Linked DNA regions of Homo sapiens: region 1 is linked to region 2. Evidence: fine-mapped expression QTL. A gene starts in region 2. The other region holds a variant in brackets. All regions are shown on one strand. Distances are between the middles of the regions. Region 1 has its middle 340 kb from the start of CNTN5. Region 2 holds the start of LINC02713 (long intergenic non-protein coding RNA 2713).

Region 1 (5,395 bases), 720 kb after region 2:
TCAAGACCTTTCTAACTTTTTGATGAAGGTGGTTAGTACCATAAACATTCCTCTTAATACTGCTTTAGCTGTATCCCAGATATTTGGGCAAATTGTTTCCCTATTTTCATCAATTTCAAAGAATTTTTTTATTTCTAACTTAATTTTGATGTTTACCCAGAAGTTAATCAGCAGCAAGTTGTTTAGTTTAAATGTATATGTATAGTTTTAAGAGAGCTTCTTGATATTGATTTATATTTTTATTGTACTGTGCTCTGAGAATGTGTTTGGTATAATTTTTTTTTAAAATTTACTGAGACATGCTTTATAGTTGAGCAAGTGGTCAATCTTGAAGTATGTTCCTTGTACAGGTGAGAGTAATATATATTCTGTGGTTGCTGGGTGGAGTATTCTGTTGATGTCTATTAGGTCAATTGATCAAGTGTCAAGTTTAAATCAAGAATTGCTTTGTTAGATGACCTATCTAATTCTCTTAGTGGGGTGTTGAAGTCTCCCATTTTCATTGTGTGACTGTCTAAGTATTTTTGTAGGTCAGGAAGAACTTGTTTTATAAATATGGGTGGTCCAGTGTTGGGTGCATATATATTTAGGATAATTAACTCTTCCTGTTGAATTGCACCCTTTAACATTATGCAATGCCCTTCTTTGCCCTTCTTAATAGTAGTTGGTTTAAAGTATGTTTTAGCTTACATAAGAATAGTGACTCCTGCTCTTTTTTGTTTTCCATTTGTATCATTTATCTTTCTCCGTCCCTTTACTTTGAACCTCTGGGTGTTATTACATGAGATGGGTCTGCTAATGATAGCAGATGATTGGCTCTTGTCTTTTTATCCAGCTTGCCATTCCATGTCTTTCAGTTGGTGTGTTGAGCTTATTTACATTCAGTGTTAGCCTTGATATGTGAGATTTGGATTCCGTAATTGTGTTGTTACCTGGTGGTTACGTAGAATGGATTGTGTAGTTATTTTAAAGTGTCTGTGGACTATGTGCTTAAATGTGTTTTTGTGGTAGCAGGTGTCATTCTTTTGATTCCATGTTTAGCACTTCCTTATGAACCTCTCATAAGTCTGGTTTATTTATTTATTTATTTATTTATTTATTTATTTATTTATTTATTTTCTGTGACAGAGTCTCTCTCTCTTGCCCAGGCTGGAGTGCAGTGGCATGATCTTGGCTCACTGCAAGCTCCACCTCCTGGATTCACGCCATTCTCCTGCCTCAGCCTCCCGAGTAGCTGGGACTACAGGCACCCGCCACCACGCCTGGCTAATTTTTTGTGTTTTTTTTAATTAGAGACGGGGTTTCACCGTGTTAGCCAGGATGGTCTCGATCTGCTGACCTCGTGATCTGCCCACCTCGGCCTCCCAAAGTGGAATTACAGGCATGAGCTACCACGCCCGGCTCCAGGCTGGTCTAGAGTTATCAAATTTCCTGCATTTGCTTGTCTGAGAATAATTTTATTTCTCCTTTGCTTATGAAGCTTAATTTGGCAGGATATGAAATTCTTGGTTAAAATTTCTTTTATTTAAGGATGCAGGAATTAGGTCCCCAATCACTTCTGGCTTGTAAATTTTCTGTTAAGAAGTCTGCTGCTAGCCTGATGGGGTTTTCCTTTGTAGGTGTACTGATCTTTTTCTCTAGTTGCCTTAAATTTTTTTTTTTTTCACATTAACCTTGGTGAATCTGATCACCATGTGATTTGAAATTGGTTGTCTTATATAGTATCTAGCCAGGGTTCTCTGTATTTCTTAAATTTGCATGTCAACCTCTCTAGTGAAATTAGGGAAATTTTGTGTGGGCTTTATCCTCAAATATATTTGCCACATTGCTTACTCTGTCTCCTTCTCTCTCAGGAGTGCCAGTGAGTTTTAAATTTCATTTTTTTTACATAATCCCATATTTATGAGAAGTTTTGTTCAATTTATTACATTATTTTCTCTTTATTTTTGCCTGAGTTGATTCAAATAACTTTTCTTTGAGCTCTGAGTTTCTTTTCTCAACTTAGTCTATTCTGCTGTTAATACTTCTAGTTGTAATGTGAGATTCCTGTAGTGAAATTATTGGTTCCAGAAGCTCAGTTTGGTTCTCAAAATGGCTATTTTGTCCTTTGCCTCTTGGATCGTATTACTGGATTCCTTGGATTCCTTGGATTGGGTTTCAACCTTCTCTGCATCTCAGTGAGCTCCTTTTTCATCCAGATTCTAAATTCTGTGGGTCATTTCAACCATTTCAGTCTGGTTAAGTACAATTTTGGGGGTGGGGGAGGGGGGTAGTGGGCTTCTTTGGAAGTAAGGGGACATTCTAGCTTTTCTTGTGATGATCATTTCTCATTTGGCAGGTGCTGGTATTCCTTTGACTGTGGTATAAGTTCTGTGTAGTCAGTTGGGTTCATTTCCAGATACTTTAAGATGGCCAAAGCCCTGTAGAAGATCTTTATTTCCCGGTCAATCCTTGCTCCTGGTTTCCCAGGTATGTATATTAACAGAATGCCTTTTTTTGGTGTTTTAGTTTGGGATGTGATTTAGTAGATGGTGATTAAGAATAATTGCTGATGGACATGCACTTACTCAGTTGCTTGGCTATTTTGTGTTTCTTTTCACTTGCAGGCATGCTCTGCAGTGTGGGGTGGGGAGAGAGAGACCCCCTTCTTCAGGTCTGCCCCTGGGCCTTGACGGAGCCCCCTTTGATCACTGGTGCTGCACCTGAATTTGTTTGTTAGATGTTCTGGGCCACGGGGCTTTCTCAGACAGAAGCTATAGCAGGGAGATAGGACACACTACATCCTTTCTGGATCATCCCTGCTCCCGCTGGTCCCTGAACCTGCTGTGCATCTTGTCCTTCTCCATGATCCAAGAGTAGGGGATCCAGTCCCACTCAAATGCCTACCACAGCTCTCAGCTCAGCACTCTCAAGCTGCATGCTGCAGCCCTGGGGCAACCAGATGGTCTGCCTCAGGGCCAGGCTGTTCATGGGGGATCCAAAGTGCTTATAGGTTGCTGGGAAAGTACTTAGGTAGAGTAAAGCACCCAGGGAGATCAGCGGAGGGTGCACTGTGCGGCAGCTAGGCAGGGACCCTGCAAAGGGTGATGGGCAGGAGGGCCTACAGAACAGACATGCCCCAGTCCCACAGAGAAGCCAGCAGCACCTTTTTTGTTTGTTTGTTTTGTTTTTTGTTTGAGATGGAGTCTTGCTCTGTTGCCCAGGCTAGAGTGCAGTGGCGCGATCTTGGCTCACCGCAACCTCTC[G/A]GGTTCAAGCGTTTCTCCTGCCTCAGCCTCCCGAGTAGCTGGGATTACAGAGGGGCCCCGGTGGCACCACCATGCTCTGCTAGTTTTTGTATTTGTAGTAGAGACGGGGTTTCACCATGTTGGCCAGGCTGGTCTCGGACTCCTGACCTCAAGTAACCTGCTCGCCTTGGCCTTCCAAAGTGCTGGCATTACAGGCATGAGCCACTGCACCCCAGGTCTAGCCTCACTTTCTCCTGGCCCAGCGGTCAAGTGGGGCTACAGCCTATCCGAGGAAGTTGGGAAGACCTGGGGAGTGGACACTTGTGGCCATGCTCTGCCAGAGCCACCCTGTGCACAAAAGCTCCTGGACTCTGCTGGCCAAAGTCGTTTTTGCCTACTCCCCGGGCAGATGCTCCTGCTGGCTCACAGGTCCATGAGGTGGGATGTGGTATAACCTGCAGCTATAGGATCCCAGAGGCCCATGGCAAGAGTAAGCTGTTCCTCAGTTCCCTCACACATCTCTTCCCCAGGAGCCATTCAGGACCAGGAACTAGCCTTGGCATTCGGATATTTCATGCAGGGTTCCCAGCGTCCTCACTCTTTCGCTGTGGTGTCAGTGCCACCTCCCCTTTCACTCTCGGTTTTCTCTCTGAAGATCTGCCCAGATAGGGTTGATTTACTCAATAATTTGGTCTTTTTTGGTGGCAGTGATGCTTTCTGGCTGCATGTAGTTGGACATATTGTCAGAAAATGCCTTTGGTTTTTAACTTGCTTCTGTATACATAAACAAGATATAATTATCTTAAATAGTCACTCTGTGTACAGCAGAAGCAAAATACATATTTTAGATACTATCATTAATTTGCCCCAATAATTAGTAATAATTCTCAAGACGACCATTATTCACTTCAGAAAGAAGTAGATATAGAAATAGTTTTGAGATGGTCAATGAGCTTTTAACAAATAATGTAACAGTGACTTAGACATAGTACAAGATTGTTTCTCCCTGTTAACTAGTAATCCTCACTGGAAACGCCCTAGAGATTTTATTTTAAAATATGTTACATTTTCAAATATACGTAAGATGTATAAGTCGATTATACTAACTCAGTATTATATTGTTATTGAAAAAGTTGCTTCTGTTAAACTCATGTTAAACATGTGCGAATAATATATTTAACATTCTGACTGCCTTTCACATGAACTTCTAAGAATATGGATCTTCAAACTATTGTATAATTCACTAAGGATAGCTATTTTCTCCTAAAATGATAAACTCTTCCACAATTTGACTTCTGAAAGCTCTTATGGTTATAACAGAGTGATTGCAATAGATAATAAACATAATTTTTTAAACTACAGTTCAGAATTAAAATCAATGATATAACTTTGTACATTTTTAACGAAGAGCCTGATAAATTAATTTGGGCTAGAAAATCACAGCTGAAGTATATAATATACAATGTTTTACATTTTGGCTCAATACTATTGGAAAGATTTTATGATTCTAATTATTGTAAATCTAAAACATCTGGTAAATTATCATTTTGTTCATTAGAAAACACTAGGAAGGATTATTGTTATACTAGCTTTTGGCATGTTTTAAAACAGTTACATTTTATATTCACGTTTCATACTCACTGGGACCATATGCTGTAATTATCCAAGTGAGGTCACCAAAAGGCGAAGAAAAGTAAAATTTCACAGCAAAATATTTCATTAGAACTTCTTGCACAATGGTTAGATTGTTAATAAGAGTTGGGAAAATCAACATCCATATATAACCTCACTTGCATTAGTTATTTCAACAATTTTTACAAATAGATAAATAGGCTTTTTCCTTACTAATAGAAGATATGAGGAAGAGAAAATATAAGAGAACAGAGGGCAAGTATCAAGAACAAGGTGGAAAACCTTTAAGGCACTCTATGTTGCCTCTAATGGAAATAAATGACTGTATGCAATTAAAGGATTATCTTCTAGGTACAAAAGGAAACACAATCAACATTTGGGAGAGCACAACTCCTTTGAAAGGTTGCCTTTTGAGATTTTAGTGATTTGTCTTAGAAATGCATCACAGAACTAAATATCTTTGCTTTTCCTACTCTCTAGTTTTCTCAGTTTATCCTAAATATTAGATATACCACAGAAGTCTGAAAGATTTTGGAGAT
Region 2 (5,395 bases):
TCTAACCCAAGCATGCTTACTTTGGAATCTTCCCATAAAAGTGAATCAGATCGTTTTTGGAATAAGTTGAATTCGTCAATTATTGCAGGGAGTATACTATTTTTTTCCTATTCATTGCCTTTGTTTTCCTTTAATCTTTGCTTTAGCTGGGATGTTTCATAGTTAATAGAAGTGGGAAAATATAGTGTTTTCTAAATATGTACATATCTCTATATTTTAACCAGAATGAAGAGAAGATTGAATTCAATAGTATAGCCTGGTTCTTTCTTTAAACAATTTTAAGGTCAAATGGTTCTCTTCATACTACCCTGATCAGGTGTCACCTCATTTAATTTTCAGGCAATTCACAGGGACTAGCATTCTGAGCAACAAATATGACCAGGGATTCTACATAACTCATTTAATCCTAAAAATTATATTGTTCTAATTTTATTCTTAAAAAAACTAGATTCAGTAATTCTGAAAAGATCAAATCATCATGATTAAGTAGAAGAACCTGAAGTACAATCTCAGCCTATTTGATTTTAAAATAAACATCCTTTCCAATCATCATGTTGTCTCGGATAAGTTGAAAATCTCTCAGTGTATCGCTACATAATCTTAAACTGTAAATTTTTGTAGCTGAAATGGTGAGTAAAATAAAGCAAAATAAATCATTAAATTATATAAATTTGCATGTTTAAATATAAAACAGTAGATTGAAGACTGACATTTAGTAATTCTGCTGTATTAGATTACATATATTAAATTATTTTATAAGTAAATTCAATGTTTTTGTGACTTAAACTTTTAATTAACACTTATATTAACAAAAAAGGAGCATACTAGGGAGATTCTAATTTGAACTGATGTGTTATCTTTCCTATGAAATATTTTAAAAGTCTCCTCATTAATTATTATTCCTCTGTGCCTCCTGTCGCTATCAAAAGAGTCTAAGTCTCCAAGAAATCTCTCACCACTAGAACTCATCCTCATAAAATTCTGTTCATTTCTTAAAGCGACCTAATCTTTCATTCTTTCCTTATCTCTCAAACATTTTCACTAGGTCCCTTTGTAACACCTTCTTTCATCAGTAACCCTACTCCCCTATTCTACTTCAAACTATTCTCTGAAGTCTCCTGTTTTGACTCGTATGTTGTTGAAGATGTGATAGCCAAAGGAGCCTTTAAAGTGGGAGCTGTAGTTGTTGTTTATTTCCTTCCAATAATCTATGTATTGCAAGGCATAAAGATAGCATATTTATGTATCTCATTTCAGCTCCTAGACTACTTGTTATCTCTCAAACACCAAGGATTTCTTCAAGTTGGTGCCGTTAGACTTCATTATCTATAAGCTCTCTTTGATACTGGCATCTATTAACATTTCTCATTCCTTCTCATTCTTAAATTCTCCTCATTCTTTCACCTAGTTTACCATCCTTCCCTTATGTCACTATTATTATCATTATTCTTAACAAAATCAAAATTTATATTGATGATCTACTCAATTACCTGGACTTTTAGATCATTGGCATCTGCATTTCAAATAATGTATTTCTTAATTCCACTTTATTTACTATATTCTATCACTTCAACGAATTAAAGGAAAAACATGATAATTTCATTAAAAGGACAAAAATATATTCAAAAAAGTTTAACTCTCCACTTATAAAAATTATACTCTTCGATTAGAAATATAGAATAACTTTCATAATTAGATAAAGAACATTAACCAGATGCTCATAGTCAGCATAATATCTACTAATTTAACTAAGAACAAATATATGGATAAAGATGAAAAAATATATATAAAATAAATAAATAAAAATAAATAGTAAAACAAAGGTGATCACATTTAGTGCTTCTCATAAGAATTGTCCTAAAGATTTAGACCAATGATTTTAAAAAAGAATGAAAATTTATAAACATTAGGAAAGAAGACATGTCTAGTTTTTTTCCAGAGATGATATAGAGTGCAAAATGTTGTTGCTGTATATAACACCAATATACCAAAAATGAATAGAAATTTTATAATTCAAATTATAAATCAAAGAAAATGATTAATGATGCATTTATAAGGTAAACTAATCATTTAAGATAAAATGGCAGGATCATAAAATAGTTACAAATCCATGTACTTGATATATTTAAAATTATTGAACAAACATAGAGAAAAAATTAAATAGAAATATAACGTATCCACAAATTACTCAATAAAATGAGAATACATGAAACAAAAGTATTCAGAATAAATAATGGAATAAAAAACTAAAACCATGGGGAGATGTGAGGAAGAGAGGTTAAAAAGTTTAAGGAAGACTGGACAGTCAAACATATACATAATTAGAAATCCAGATGACAAATAAAGAAAAATGGATAGAAGCCATATAAAATGATATAATAACAATGTATTTCTAAAATAAACGAAGTGCTTCCTAAGGTTTAAGAAAAACAATGAACTCAAAGCAGAATATATAGAAAGAAATCCATGTCCCAATTAAGCTGGAGAAAACCAATGAAAATTTGAAAATAGTAAAAGAGCCCAGAGGATAAACAAGCAAAGAAAACACGGATGAATTTCAAAGAAGCAGCAGTAATCCTGAAAGCTGGCCTATGGAAGCTATAGGATAATCTCATGATACATTCAATGTGATTTGTTTTTGCTAAGATTGGGAGTGAATAGCATTCTAGCTATTTACATCTTTAGCAGAAACCATAAGCCTCTGGAAATTTAATTTAATATTAAAATATCATTATAAATTCTTTGCCATATTAACAGAGTACAGAAGAAATAAAATGATCATCTTAGTAGATACAAAATAAGTCATTTACAAAATTCAACCTGTATTTGTTATAAAAACTGTTAACAAACTTGGAATAAAAGAAGACTTCCTGAATTAAATTGTATAATAATATACCTACTGAAAATGTATAATTGTTGATAAAAATAATTAAAATCTTTCTTCTTTTTTTCTTCTTTTTTATTTTGACAGACTCTTGCTCTGTTGCCCAGGATGGAATGCAGTGGGACAATCATGGCTCACTACAGCCTCAACATTCCAGGCTCAATAGATCCTCCCACCTCAGTCTCCAGAGTACTTGGGACTACAAGTGTGAACCACAACACTCAGCTAATTTTTAAATTTTTGTACAGATGGGGCTCCACTATGTTGTCCAAGCTGGTCACAAACTCCTAGGCTCAAGCAGTCCTCCCACCTTAGCCACTGAAAGTGCTGGGATTACAGGCACGAGCCGCTGGGATTTCAGGCATGAACCACTGTGCCTGGCCAGCTTTTTCTTTAAGACTGAAAAAAAGATGTGTGTCATATTATCACTTCTATTCAATATTGTATTAGAGGTCTTATCCAAGGAAATAAAGAATGATAATTCTTACAGATTGTGTTTATCTGTTTGCATTACTATAAAGGAATACCTGAGACTGGATAATTTATAAAGAAAAAGTTTTAATTAACTCACTGGTCTGTATGATGTACAGAAAGTATGGCACTGGCATCTATTTCTGGTGAGGGCCTCAGGAATCTTATAATCATGGTGGAAAGTGAAGGGAGAGCAGGTGTCCCACACGGTGAAAGAAGGAACAAGGCAAGGGGAGGTCCCATACTTTTAAACAACCAGATCTTGCATGAACTCAGTGAGAACTCACTTATCATCAAGAGCATGGTGCTAAACCACGAGGCATCCACCCCTGTAATCCAATCACCTCCCACCAGACCCACTTCCAACTTTGGGAATCACATCTCAACATGAGAGTTGAAGGGGACAAAATCCATACAATATCACAGATATTAGAAGGAATAAAACTTTCAGTTATAATATGCAAATTTCACAAATTATATACTTACGTTTAAAAATCCCGAGTATTTACAAATAAAATATTAGATTCATGTCAAAATTTAGCTATGTTGCAGGATTTTAGATCTCTATTAGATATGAGTTATTATTTACATATAGTAGTAATAGTTGGAAATTAAAAACAAAACTACTTAAAATAGCATCAAAATATTTTGTGCCTCTGAATAAATCTAAGAAAATATGCGCAAGGCATAGAAGAAGAAAACTATATAACTACTTAAAGATACTCCAGAAAACCAACATAAATGGGGAAATATACCATGTTCATGAATTTAAAAACTCAAGATGTCAATTTACAAAAAATGAAAATACAGGTACATTGCAATCTCTGTGAAATCTCTATAGGGTTTTGGAGGGTGGATGAAGAGACTTGATATGCTGATTTTATAATTTTTATAGGAATACAATGTTTTTAGTCTAGCCCAGATGTTCTGAAAGAACATATATTAAGAAAACTTTACCAGATGGAAATATTTATTACATACCTAACGTTACTACTTTAAATATTAGGTAATTACATACCTAGTATAGGTATTACATACCTAAAGTAGTAACTTTAGTAATAAATAAAGTTACTACTTAAGGTATGTAATAAATCAAAGTAAACCCACAATTAGATACCATTAAAGTAGTATAGGGTTATACTACTTTAAGGTTAGACAAAACTGAGAGTTGGCAACATTTGGCTCACAGGCAAGGCACCCCTTTTTTAAAAGTAAAGCTTTATTGGAACATAGCCATGTCCATTCATTTATGTCTTGTCTGTGGCTGCTTCTATACTACACCAGGTTGCAACAAAGACTGTATGGCCCACAGTGTAAAATCTTTGCTATCTGACCTATTAAGAAGGGTCAAGAACAATTAAGATGTTCCTTGCACAAGAATAATAAAGCAAACTAAAAAGCCAGTATCATGTACATATAAAATGTTGATATATGAAAAAGAAAGAACTGCAGAGCAGTTAGGAAAGGTCGGAAATCAAGGACCACTACTTCACACTAGTAACACATAGATACACACACACAGACACACAGACACACACACACACAGCAATTCTGCACAGCTCATATAATCAATAAAACTCCCTCTATTTGTTAAAAAAAAAAGTAGGTAAACTTGACCACATTAAGAGTATGAATTTCAGCAATATTTTTAAGAAGTGAAAAATGAGCTATATAGTGGGAAAGGTATTTTCAATACACATAACTGCTAAAGGCAATACATTTATAATATTTTTGAGTTAAAATATATTAGAAATAGATAACAGGGACATTTGCAGGAAAGAAATAATAAAAGGAAGAAAAAAGAAAGGAGAAAAGGATGGAGGAAGGGAAAAAGGGAATGAGGAAGATAGAAAAGTAGGAACACATAAAGATTGTATCAGAAAAGAGGACACACACACATATGTATAGCCAAATGTTAAAAAAGATAAGCATAATTAGTAATTTATGAATGCAAAGTAAACCCACAATTAGACTGTATTAGTCCGTTCTCATGCTGCTGTGAAGAAATACCTGAGACCGGGTAATTTATAAAGAGAAGAG

The links. PIP is the estimated chance that this variant, and not a neighbour inherited with it, causes the effect.
Region 1: its variant is the best candidate, but not a certain one, in a credible set for the expression of LINC02713 in testis (GTEx, PIP 0.81).

The regions. Positions count from the first base shown.
Region 1 is chr11:98,677,734-98,683,128 of GRCh38, forward strand. No RefSeq gene overlaps it. Among named protein-coding and RNA genes, the nearest start is that of CNTN5, 340 kb to the right of the region's middle. The variant G/A (reference allele first, on the strand shown) is at 3,246.
Region 2 is chr11:97,954,071-97,959,465 of GRCh38, forward strand. LINC02713 (long intergenic non-protein coding RNA 2713) reads right to left here and starts at 3,013. Exons shown (of 6, transcript NR_183633.1): 1 at 2,901-3,013.